Homo sapiens: one gene and its partners. The protein of the gene in region 1 purifies or fractionates together with the protein of each later gene. This does not show direct contact. Each region holds a gene or a part of one and is shown in the gene's direction. Other genes may lie near its edges. The genes, in order: PPP1R35, DCP1A and EDC3.

Evidence for each region.
Region 2: the proteins of PPP1R35 (region 1) and DCP1A purify together in Homo sapiens (affinity purification with mass spectrometry; one large-scale study listed by BioGRID and IntAct). This does not show direct contact.
Region 3: the proteins of PPP1R35 (region 1) and EDC3 purify together in Homo sapiens (affinity purification with mass spectrometry; one large-scale study listed by BioGRID and IntAct). This does not show direct contact.

The regions. Positions count from the first base shown.
Region 1 is NC_000007.14:100,434,638-100,437,960, reverse strand, and holds PPP1R35 (protein phosphatase 1 regulatory subunit 35), read left to right. Parts: upstream 1-1,463; 5' UTR 1,464-1,586; coding exon 1,587-1,820; intron 1,821-1,896; coding exon 1,897-2,113; intron 2,114-2,193; coding exon 2,194-2,330; intron 2,331-2,427; coding exon 2,428-2,601; 3' UTR 2,602-2,679; downstream 2,680-3,323.
Region 2 is NC_000003.12:53,313,028-53,316,679, reverse strand, and holds part of DCP1A (mRNA-decapping enzyme 1A), read left to right. Parts: intron 1-3,652. UniProt on the Homo sapiens protein: Necessary for the degradation of mRNAs, both in normal mRNA turnover and in nonsense-mediated mRNA decay. Removes the 7-methyl guanine cap structure from mRNA molecules, yielding a 5'-phosphorylated mRNA fragment and 7m-GDP.
Region 3 is NC_000015.10:74,689,513-74,693,164, reverse strand, and holds part of EDC3 (enhancer of mRNA-decapping protein 3), read left to right. Parts: intron 1-146; exon of another isoform or gene 147-279; intron 280-3,652. UniProt on the Homo sapiens protein: Binds single-stranded RNA. Involved in the process of mRNA degradation and in the positive regulation of mRNA decapping. May play a role in spermiogenesis and oogenesis.

The DNA.
Region 1 (3,323 bases):
AGCTGAACCACTTGAGGTCAGGAGTTCGAGGCCAACACGGTGAAACCCTGTCTCTACTAAAAATACAAAAAAAATTAGCCGGGTGTGGTGGTAGGCGCCTGTAATCCCACCTACTTGGGAGGCTAAGGTGGGAGAATTGCTTGAACACTGGAGGCAGACGTTGCAGTGAGCTGAGATTGTGCCACAGTCTCCAGCCTGGGCACCAGAGCGAGACTCCGTCTCAAAAAACAAAATAAAACATTGAACCCACAATACAGAGTTTTTTGTTTGTTTCTGAGACAGGGTCTTGCTCTGTCGCCCAGGCTAGAGCGCAGTGGTATGATCAGAGCTCATTGCAGCCTGGAACTCCTGGACTCAAGTGATCCTCCCGCCTCAGCCTTCCCAGTAGCTGGGACTACAGGTGAGCACCACCACCACGCCCGGCTAAAATTAAATTCTTTTGGTAGAGATTGGGAATGGTGGTGTGGAGTCTCGGTATGTTGCCCATGCTTGTCTCCAGCTCAGGGTTTCAAGACATCTTCCCGCCTTGGCCTCCCAGAGTTGGAATTGCAGGTATGCGCTACCGCACCCGTGCCAGATATCTACTTTTTATACAAATTAATATTTCAGGGAACTCTCGAAGGTAAAAGTAGTCACAAAAAGCTGCAAGAGTTGCTGTGTCCCAGAAGGGAGTCCGGGATGGGGTCGGCGACCCTCGCCCGCACTCATACAGGCCAACTCCGGTCCGAGTTTGGAGGCAACGGAACACCGGAAATGCTGTGCAGGTCTGAGTGGGAGGTCAGGGCACACTGGACCGTTACCTTAAAGCTGCCCCATTTATGGCCAGGTGCGGTGGCTCATGCCTGTAATCCCAGCACTTTGGGAGGCCGAGGTGGGCGGATCACGAGGTCAGGAGTTCGAGACCAGCCTGACCAACATGGTGAAACCGTCTCTACTAAAAATACAAAAATTAGCCGGGCGTGATGGCGCGCGCCTGTAATCCCAGCTACTCAGGAGGCTGAGGCAGGAGAATCTCTTGAACCTGGGAGGCGGAGGTTGCAGTGAGCCGAAATCGCGCCCCTGCACTCCAGCCTGGGCTACAGAGAGAGGCTCAGTCTCAAAAAAAAAAAAAAATGCTGCCCCATTTGGCGCCCCAGAATGAGGACTGACACACTGGGCAATGGGCATCGCAGCGCTAGCAGGACTAAGATTCCTCTGGGTAACTCAGCCATAGCAGAGTTTTCAAGAGGAGGAGTGGCCCTGATGAGGACCCGTAGGGCTTCAACCGACCCCAGCTCAAAAACACTTCGGCTTGGGGGCGGTGCCAAGGCTGTGAGTGCTTCCAACACTTCGGCTTGGGGGCGGTGCCAAGGCTGTGAGTGCGGAAGCCTGCCGGAAACCTGGGGACGGAGCGAGGGAAATGACGCCTGGGAGCGACAACAGGGTGGGTGGGGCTGCTGACTCCGCCCCCGAAGGAAAGGGTTAACGGTTTCCGGTAGCGGCGTCTAGGAGGGGCGGGGGAAAGGAGGCGGCAGCCAGGCTGTGTCCCCTGACCGTTGGAGCGTCTGCGACCCCCGCATCCCCGCACCCTCAAGGCACCTCCAAAGATGATGATGGGTTGTGGGGAGTCAGAGCTGAAGTCGGCGGACGGGGAAGAAGCCGCGGCGGTCCCGGGGCCACCCCCGGAGCCCCAAGTCCCGCAACTCCGAGCCCCAGTGCCCGAGCCCGGCCTGGACTTGAGCCTGAGCCCGCGGCCCGACAGCCCTCAGCCGCGGCACGGCAGCCCCGGGCGGCGGAAGGGGCGGGCGGAGCGGCGGGGCGCGGCTCGGCAGCGGCGGCAGGTGAGCGGGGGAGGCTGGCCCCCGGCCCGCGACGGCCTCGCGCCCACCTGGTCACTGCCCTGCCCTCTGCTCCCAGGTCCGCTTCCGCCTGACGCCGCCCTCCCCGGTGCGGTCCGAGCCGCAGCCTGCGGTGCCGCAGGAGCTGGAGATGCCCGTGCTGAAGAGCAGCCTGGCCTTGGGCCTGGAGCTGCGGGCCGCAGCCGGGAGCCACTTTGATGCTGCGAAGGCCGTGGAGGAACAGCTGAGAAAGTCGTTCCAGATCCGCTGCGGCCTGGAGGAGAGCGTGTCCGAGGGTGAGGGGGGCGGGCGGCCGGCCGCGTGCGGGAGTCGGGGTGAGGCGCGCCACTCACCTCCGTCCCCGCTGCGCTCTCAGGGCTGAACGTGCCGCGCTCCAAGCGGCTCTTCCGGGACCTGGTGAGCCTGCAGGTGCCGGAGGAACAGGTTCTGAATGCCGCGCTCAGGGAGAAATTGGCTCTCCTGCCGCCACAGGCTCGAGCCCCGCACCCAAAGGTGATGGGGTCTGGGCGTGGGGCTTCCTCCATGTACCCCCTTACCCGGATCCTTCCTCCCAAAGTGTAACCTTGCTTTGGGCCCAACCTCCCAACAGGAGCCACCTGGGCCTGGGCCAGACATGACCATCTTGTGTGACCCAGAAACGCTATTTTATGAATCTCCACACCTGACCCTGGACGGTCTGCCCCCTCTCCGACTTCAACTCCGGCCCCGCCCTTCAGAGGACACCTTCCTCATGCACCGGACACTGAGGCGATGGGAAGCGTAGACCCCAAAGATCCCTGGAGGGCTAGTTCGTATTTTTGTGTTAAACTATTTGTTAGAATAAAGTAATTTTGCTAATAAATGGGACTCTTCTTGGAGGCCTAAAATGGGGTTAAAAGCTCTCTAGGGGGTTATCCACTTAGCCTCAGGTTGGAAGCTGCCTGGAAGTCGGGTTTGGGGGCCTTTTTGGAACTTGGTAGAGTCATGGCAAGTGGAAAACACTGTCCACGTTAGAGGTTTACTTAGATACCCCTCCGTTCACAACCTTACCTGCCTCTCCCTGACTTCAGCCACAGCTACTGCCTGTTTTTGATCAGGTAGCGATTGTTCTCTGCATCACTTATTCTGATCTCTCAAAATGCAGAGCCCAGCCTATCACACTTCACGAAAACCTTCCATGATTACCTGTCTCAAGGAGCTTGCAAGCCAGCTGTCTGCACTGAGTTACTGAAATTATCTCCTTGCTTTTTACCTTTAAGAGCCTTGCCCATCCTGTTTACACCTGACCTGAATACTCAGTATGTTCGAAGTTCCAGTAACACCTAACAAGCCCCCGAAGAGCTTCATGTTGTTAATTGCCTGTAAGTCTGATTCCACAGCACAAAAAAGGTGCTGGCCCGTCCCTGGGCATTTGATCCAAAGCACTTTTGCCTACCTCCACCGTCAACTCTTTCCAAGTTAGCCTTCTGGCCAGGTGCAGTGGCTCGCGCCTGTAATCCCAGCACT
Region 2 (3,652 bases), on another chromosome or scaffold:
TTAAGGCCAGGAGTTCAAGACCATCCTGGCCTGATATAGCAAGACTCATCTCTGTTTAATTAAAAAAAAAAAAAAAAAAAAAAGGGAAGAAGAAAAGAAAGTGATTAGAGAAGCCAGGCACAGTGGTGTGTACCTGTCATTTCAGCTATAATACTTGTGAGGCCCAGGTGGGCAGATCACTTGGGCCCCAGGAGTTCAAGATCAATCTGGGCAACATAGTGAGATCCCATCTCAAAAAAAAAAAGTGATTAGAGAATACCCTGGTGAAACTGTTGATAATGAGTTTTAAGTGTCTGGCCTATTTATAGCTGAAGAGAATATTGTATGTTACCATTAACTTTGTGATAAATGCCTCTCTGGTCACCAAAACTAAAGAAGACTATCTGTCTTTGTTCTAAATCTGCCTGCATAAACCTGTTTGTTACTTTTTGTTGTTGTTGTTTGCTACATATTTGAGAATATCACCTCTACTATCCAAAAATACTAGCACAGTTCTTGTTAGTATATTATACATATAAATAAATGTGTCCATCAGTGCCCATTCTTTTAAATACAGTTCTTCCCATCACTATTTGACAGCCACAATATAATAAAGATCCTCCAAGTAAAAAAACTGATTTACTCCAGGCTGGGCGCGGTGGCTCACGCCTGTAATCCCAGCGCTTTGGGAGGCCAAGACAGGCGTATCACGAGGTCAGGAGATCGAGACCATCCTGGCCAATATGGTGAAACCTCGTCTCTAGTAAAAATACAAAAAAATTAGCGGGGCATGGTGGCGGGCACCTGTAGTCCCAGCTACTCAGGAGGCTGAGGCAGAAGAATGGCGTGAACCCGGGAAGCGGAGCTTTCAGTGAGCCAAGATCGTGCCACTGCACTCCAGCCTGGGCGACAGAGCGAGACTCCGTCTCAAAAAAAAAAAAAACAAAAAAAAAAAACAACAAACTGATTTACTCCAAACAATGTTTATAAAAACGAGAAACTATGTAGGAAAATGAGTGAGCTTCTAGACCCTATGTCATCTAAATTTGTATATTCTCTGGTCAGTGGTGGCAGAGTTGAAAACCCACTAAACTTAGAAGCTGTTGACTCTCCTAAAGAGGAAATCCAGTCTGCCAGAAACTCTTTTTTTTTTTTTTTTTTTTTTTGAGACAGAGTCTTGCTCTGTCACCCAGGAATGTGGTGGCGTGATCTGGGTTCACTGTAACCTCCGCCCTCCTGGGTTCAAGCAGTTCTCCTGCCTCAGCCTCCCGAGTAGCTGGGATTACAAGTGCCTGCCACTGCACCCAGCTAATTTTTGTATTTTTAGTAGAGACAGGGTTTCACCATCTTGACCTGGCTGACCTTGAACTCCTGACCTCATGATCCACCCACCTTGGCCTCCCAAAGTGCTGGGATTACAGGCGTGAGCCACCACACCCGGCCTCAGAAACTCTTTTTAACAATAAAAAGTTGTTTGACGGTTTGGCCACATAGACTATGTAAACTTTGGAGAACTCATGGAAGTAAGCTTTATTCCTGATCTTACAGACATCTTAGGGGTAGGTTTTGGTGTTTGAAAGGAAAGGAGAATGGCATGAGTGCTATCCATAAAGTTTGGATTAGAAGAGGCCTTAGAGTCCAAGCCTCGTTTATGTGAGAGTCCCTTCCATTACCACCCCCGACAGCTTCTGCTTTCAGCAGTGGTGAGCTTTATAAAATTACCTGTTCTGGCTGGGCGCAGTGGCTCACGCCTGTAATCCCAGCACTTTGGGAGGCTGAGGTGGTCAGATCACTTGAGGTCAGGAGTTCAAGACCAGCCTAGTCAACATGGTGAAACCCTGTCTTTATTAAAAATACAAAAATTAGCCGGGCATGATAGTGCATACCTGTAATCCCAGCTACTAGGGAGGCTGAGGCACGAGAATCGCTTGAACCCGGGAGTCGAAGGTTGCAGTAAGCCGAGATCGCACCACTGCACTCTAGCCCGGGTGACAGAGTAAGGCTCTGTCTCAAAAAAAAAAAAAAAAAAAAAAGAAAAAGAAAAGAAATATTCTTCTCTTAAACCAAAATAATCACAGAATCACAGATCCTAGTCTGGGTCAGGGAAGAGTTAAATACCAGCATGGCCAAGTCAGGCAACATGTCAGGAGGTAGGTGGAAAACAGGCCGTGTGACAGATCCTTTATGAAGATGGATTCAGGCTGATGTGGCCTATATTTGAGCATTAAATAAACAATTCATGTTTGGTCTTATTCTCATATCCCATACCAGTCTTTCAGTCTACCATGAAGCTCATGATGCTACATTTGTTTTAGAAGTAATAGTCTTATTAAGAGCTATAATTATGAATCTAGATAGAAAAACTACATGTTACCTTAAAGCCACATTTTCCAAACAGGAATTCTACCTCAGAGTAAAATTCTATAGTCAAATAAAATTTGAGAAAATCTATAGGCCTGCCCTTCTTGGAGAATCACAATAAATTTTAGCATGCTTAAAAATCAACTGGCCAGTTGTGGTGGCTCATGTCTATAATCCCGGCACTTTGGGAGGCTGAGGTGGGAGGATTGCTTGAGGCCAGGAGTTTGAGACCAGCCTGGGCAACATGGTGAGACCTTGTCTGTACAATAAAAAAATAAATAAAACAAACAAACAAAAATTCAATGGGTGGGTTGTGGTAATTCATGCCTTTAATCCCAGTATTTTGGGAGGCTGAGGCAGGAGGATCACTTGAGACTAGGAGTTTTGGGACCAGCCAGGGCAACATATCAAACTCCATCTCTACAAAAATAATAATAAAACTCAAGGATTCTGTTTTTTCTTTTTTTTTAAGTCGGTTTAATATTGTTTAACCCAGTATTTTTAAATAAAAAAGCCATCTCTGTTCACCTCTTCCCCACACTCTAATGAGAGCTCCTGTGCAGGCTGGGTTTTTTGTTTTTTAAAACAGGGTTTCACTATGTTGCCTGGGCTGGTCTCAAACTCCTGGGCTCAAGTGATCGTCCTGCCTCAGCCTCACAAAGTGCTAGGATTATAGGCATGAGCACTGTGCCTGGCCTGAATGAATCTTAAAAAAAACAAAAAAAGTTGCTTTATTAAAATTTATTATTCAAGCTTGAAAGCTTGAAGAAAAATATAGGAAATAATAAAATATGTATGTGCTTACCACCCAGCTTTCAGTTCCTAATATTTTGCTGTAATTGTTTCAGATCTTTCTTTACAAGGGAGAAGGGGGTGTTCTTAAAAACTGAAAGCCCACTTAGTGATTTTTTTTTTTTTTTGGAGTCAAGGTCTCACTCTGTTACCCAGGCTGGAGTGCAGTAGTGTGATCTCAGTTCACTGCAGCCTCTACCTCCCAGACTCAAGCAGTCCTCCCACCTCAGCCTTCCAAATAGCTGGGACTACAGGCGTGTACCACTACGCCCAGCTAATTTTTGTATTTTTTGTAGAGACGGGGTTTTGCCAAGTTGCCCAGGCTAAGTTGGTGGTTTTTAAAAGGGAGAATAAGGGAAACCTTTTATTTGCTTATAGTGTTACTAACTTTTAAGGATTCACCAAGACCTCTATTTTCAAGAACTGACTTTGTCCTTGCTAGCCCAGTGTCAATCCAAACTTTCCACAGAGGATTTGTTCAACTATGCAGCCTTCCTGTGTCTTGGTGGAACTGTCAGTT
Region 3 (3,652 bases), on another chromosome or scaffold:
GGTTGCATCACTGGTAGGCTTGTACCTGGAATATTAGGTTTAGATCTAGATGTGCTAAGAGTAAATTTATGGGCAGAAGTCAAAAGTTTGAAGATATGGTGGTGTTGCTTTGGCATGAATGATTATTTTTCTCCTTGTCATTTCAGGCTTTCAGGTATAGGCTGGGTCACTAGTCTTAAAACATTTCTTCTTGAGAATGTCTAAAAGACTGTGGAATCTGTTAGATCTTATATACTTTTAAGTTGGCACCTGAAACTTTTCATCCTAGATTTACATAGTGTAAGTATTTAATTTTAAATAGTTTAGGATGTAATTTCTGACAAGTAAATATTGACTTCTTAAAAATAAATATAAAATTACCTAAATACAATATCAATTTGATGTTGTAAAAACATACAACTAAACTTTTGAAACAAAGACTGTAAGAAATACATAACATAGCTTATTACATTACTTGATTTTCAGATGTTAAACCCATCTTGCATTTGTGAAATGAACCCTGCTTAGTAATGTATCTACTACTTTTTACATATAGATGGATTCAATTTGCTAACATTTTGTTAATTTTTGTGACTGTGTTCATGATGGATATTGGTCTGAGGTTTCCTTTTTTTTATGTCATCTTTGGCCTTAGTAGCAGGGTAATTATGACCTCATAAAATGAATTGGGAAGTGTTCCTTCCTCCTCTGTTTTCTGAAATAGTTTGTGTAGGATTGGTATTATTTCTTACGTGTTTCATAGAATTTACCAGTGAAGTCCTATGGGCCTGGGTTTTTCTCTCTGGGAAGATTTTACTAATTCAATTTCTTAATATAGTTAGTTGAGTTAGTTTTGGTCATTTTTATCATTTTGGGAGTTTGTCCATTACATATTTTTCCTTTTTCTTTTTGAACTTGTATCCATTCCACTTTTCCCACAGAATTTTATCCTAAAGCAAAAGTCAACTTTCTGTCAAAGGCCAGATGAAAGGCTTTATGGGCCACATGGTTTCTGTGATTACTGCTTAATTCTCACTGTAGTGAGAAAACAGCCATAGACAATATGTGGCCGGGTGCGGTGGCTCACGCCTGTAATCCCATCACTTTGGGAGACTGAGGCAGGCGGATCACGAGGTCAGGAGATCGAGACCATCCTGGCTAACACAGTGAAACCCCGCCTCTACTAAAAAATACAAAAAAAATTAGCCGGGCGTGTTGGTGGGCGCCTGTAGTCCCAGCTACTTGGGAGGCTGAGGCAGGAGAATCGCTTGAACCCGGGAGGTGGAGGTTGCAGTGAGCCGAGATCGCTCCACTGCACTCCAGCCTGGACGACAGAGCAAGACTGTCTCAAAAAAACCCAAAAAAACCCAGAAAATAGCCGTAGATAATATGCAAGTATTTTTGTGTAGTTGTGTTCCAATAAAACTTTATTGGTAGCAGACCAGATCTGGTTTAGGGCTGTAGTTTTCCTACCCATCCTAAAGTAATAAATTTTATGCCTGAAAATTTAAAATTGATCATCTAGTTATCCACACAGATCAGGTTTATGAGAGTAGCATGGAAGTTGATTCCCTTGCTTGCATATCTTTGTGTACCCCCTACGGACATGTGTATTCCAGTGTAAAGACCAGGACTTGATTTCCAAGATGTTGTAGAGGGAATTCATGTATTTTTGTAATTTTGTTTGGGTGAGAAGTGAGGTGGCCCTCACAGCGCCATAACTTAAGTTCCCTATGTGATCGGTATTCTTTCTGGCAAAAGGAGACATTTGAACTAAAATTTTTTATGTTGTAGACACTATATGGATTATCTCATTTAATCTTAAAATAATCCATATAGTATCTTAAAATAATCCATATAGTATCTTAAAATAATTCATATAGTGGTTCTATGAGATAGGTGTATAATTGGCATAATTCCCTACAGATGAGGCAGTTGAGACTCAGATTAGGTAATTTGCCCAGGTCGTAGTGCTGGTTAGTAAGGAAGTTCAGAAGTGAACCAGGGGCTGTGATGTCTGATTTCATTTTTTTCTTTTTTTTTTTTTTTGAGACAGGGTCTTGCTCTGCCACCCAGGCTGGAGTGCAGTGGTGCAATCTTGGCTCACTGCAACCTCCGCCTCCCAACACTTCTGACTAATTTTTTGTATTTTTTCTAGAGACAGAGTTTTGCCATGTTGCCCAGGCTGGCTTTGAACTCCTAGGCTCAAGCGGTCAGCCCTCCTTGGCCTCCCACAGTGCTAGGATTGCAGACACTAGCCACCTGAGGCGTGAGCCACCACACCCAGTGTGATTTCAGAATTTTATTCTCTTTTCACCGTGCTGCCTTTTATGGAAGATATGGGTTTAGTACTGGATTTAGATAGGGGATTGTGCTGGATTTCTTTTTCTGAGGCGGGGTGGGGGTGGAAACAGTCTTGCTATGTTGTCCAGGCTGGTCTGAAACTCCTGGCCTCAAGTGATCCTCCTGCCTCAGCCTCCCAAAGTGCTGGGATGTAGGGCCTGAGCCATCATGCTGGGTTGCATATTTTCTTTTAAGATCTCTGCCTTTCCCAATATTTTGATTAAACAAACACCTTTCCTGTTGTGTGGAACAATTCCTAGTTTTTCAGAAATCTATAACTACTCACTCATCCACAGCTGTTAATTATAATTGTTTTTAGCAGGCCAAGGGTTGTTTATTGGATCTGAATGCTGTGAGTTGTCTGATGTGGCACAGAGATGGAGGTAGCTAGATTTGTAATTGGCAACTTGTTTATTTGTAATTTATGGATCATTTGGGCGCTGCCTTAGTAATATAATAGATGGAAGAGTGTTTAGCGCTACCTGACTTTGTTATCCAAAGGCTTATCAGAATAATGATAAAGTCCCATTACTTATCTGGCATTCAGTAGTCTGGAAATCCTGATAGTTCAGCATTTGAGCAAAATAGTCCCATAATTAAAAGTAATCTGGAAAATCTTGATTATGTCACATCTGTGGCTCCCTTCCTAGCTACACAGATTGTTAGGATAGATTTTAATAACAAGTTGGCAAAATAAGTGTTGGTTAGCTAGCTGCACAAACATTGCATTTTTTTGAAATATTTAACATTGTTGAATACTACACAGAAAAATTAGTTTTTTTTAGAAGTGGAATTGTTTGAAGGATTTATTGTCATGAATAGGCTTTACAGGGAAGATGTATTTTTTTTTATTGTACATCAAATCCTGTCAGCAAACTTACACTAGTAATGTATTAATGAGATGAAGGATATTCCAAAGTAGCTAGATTTGTAATTGGCAACTTGTTTATTTGTATAAGAACAAAGTGGTAAATGAATTAAAGTATTCTTACCTGGAGGTGTTTAAGAAATGGAGGCAGGGCCGGGCGCAGTGGCTCACGCCTGTAATCCCAGCACTTTGGGAGGCCGAGGCGGGCGGATCATGAGGTCAGGAGATCGAGACCATCCTGGCTAACACGGTGAAACCCCATCTCCACTAAAAATACAAAAAATTAGCCGGGCGCGGTGGCGGGCACCTGTAGTCCCAGCTACTCAGGAGGCTGAGGCGGGAGGATGGTGTGAACCCAGGAGGCGGAGCTTGCAGTGAGCTGAGATAGTGCCACTGCAGTCCGGCCTGGGCGAAAGAGCGAGACTCCGTCTCAAAAAAAGAAAAAAAAAAAAGAAATGGAGG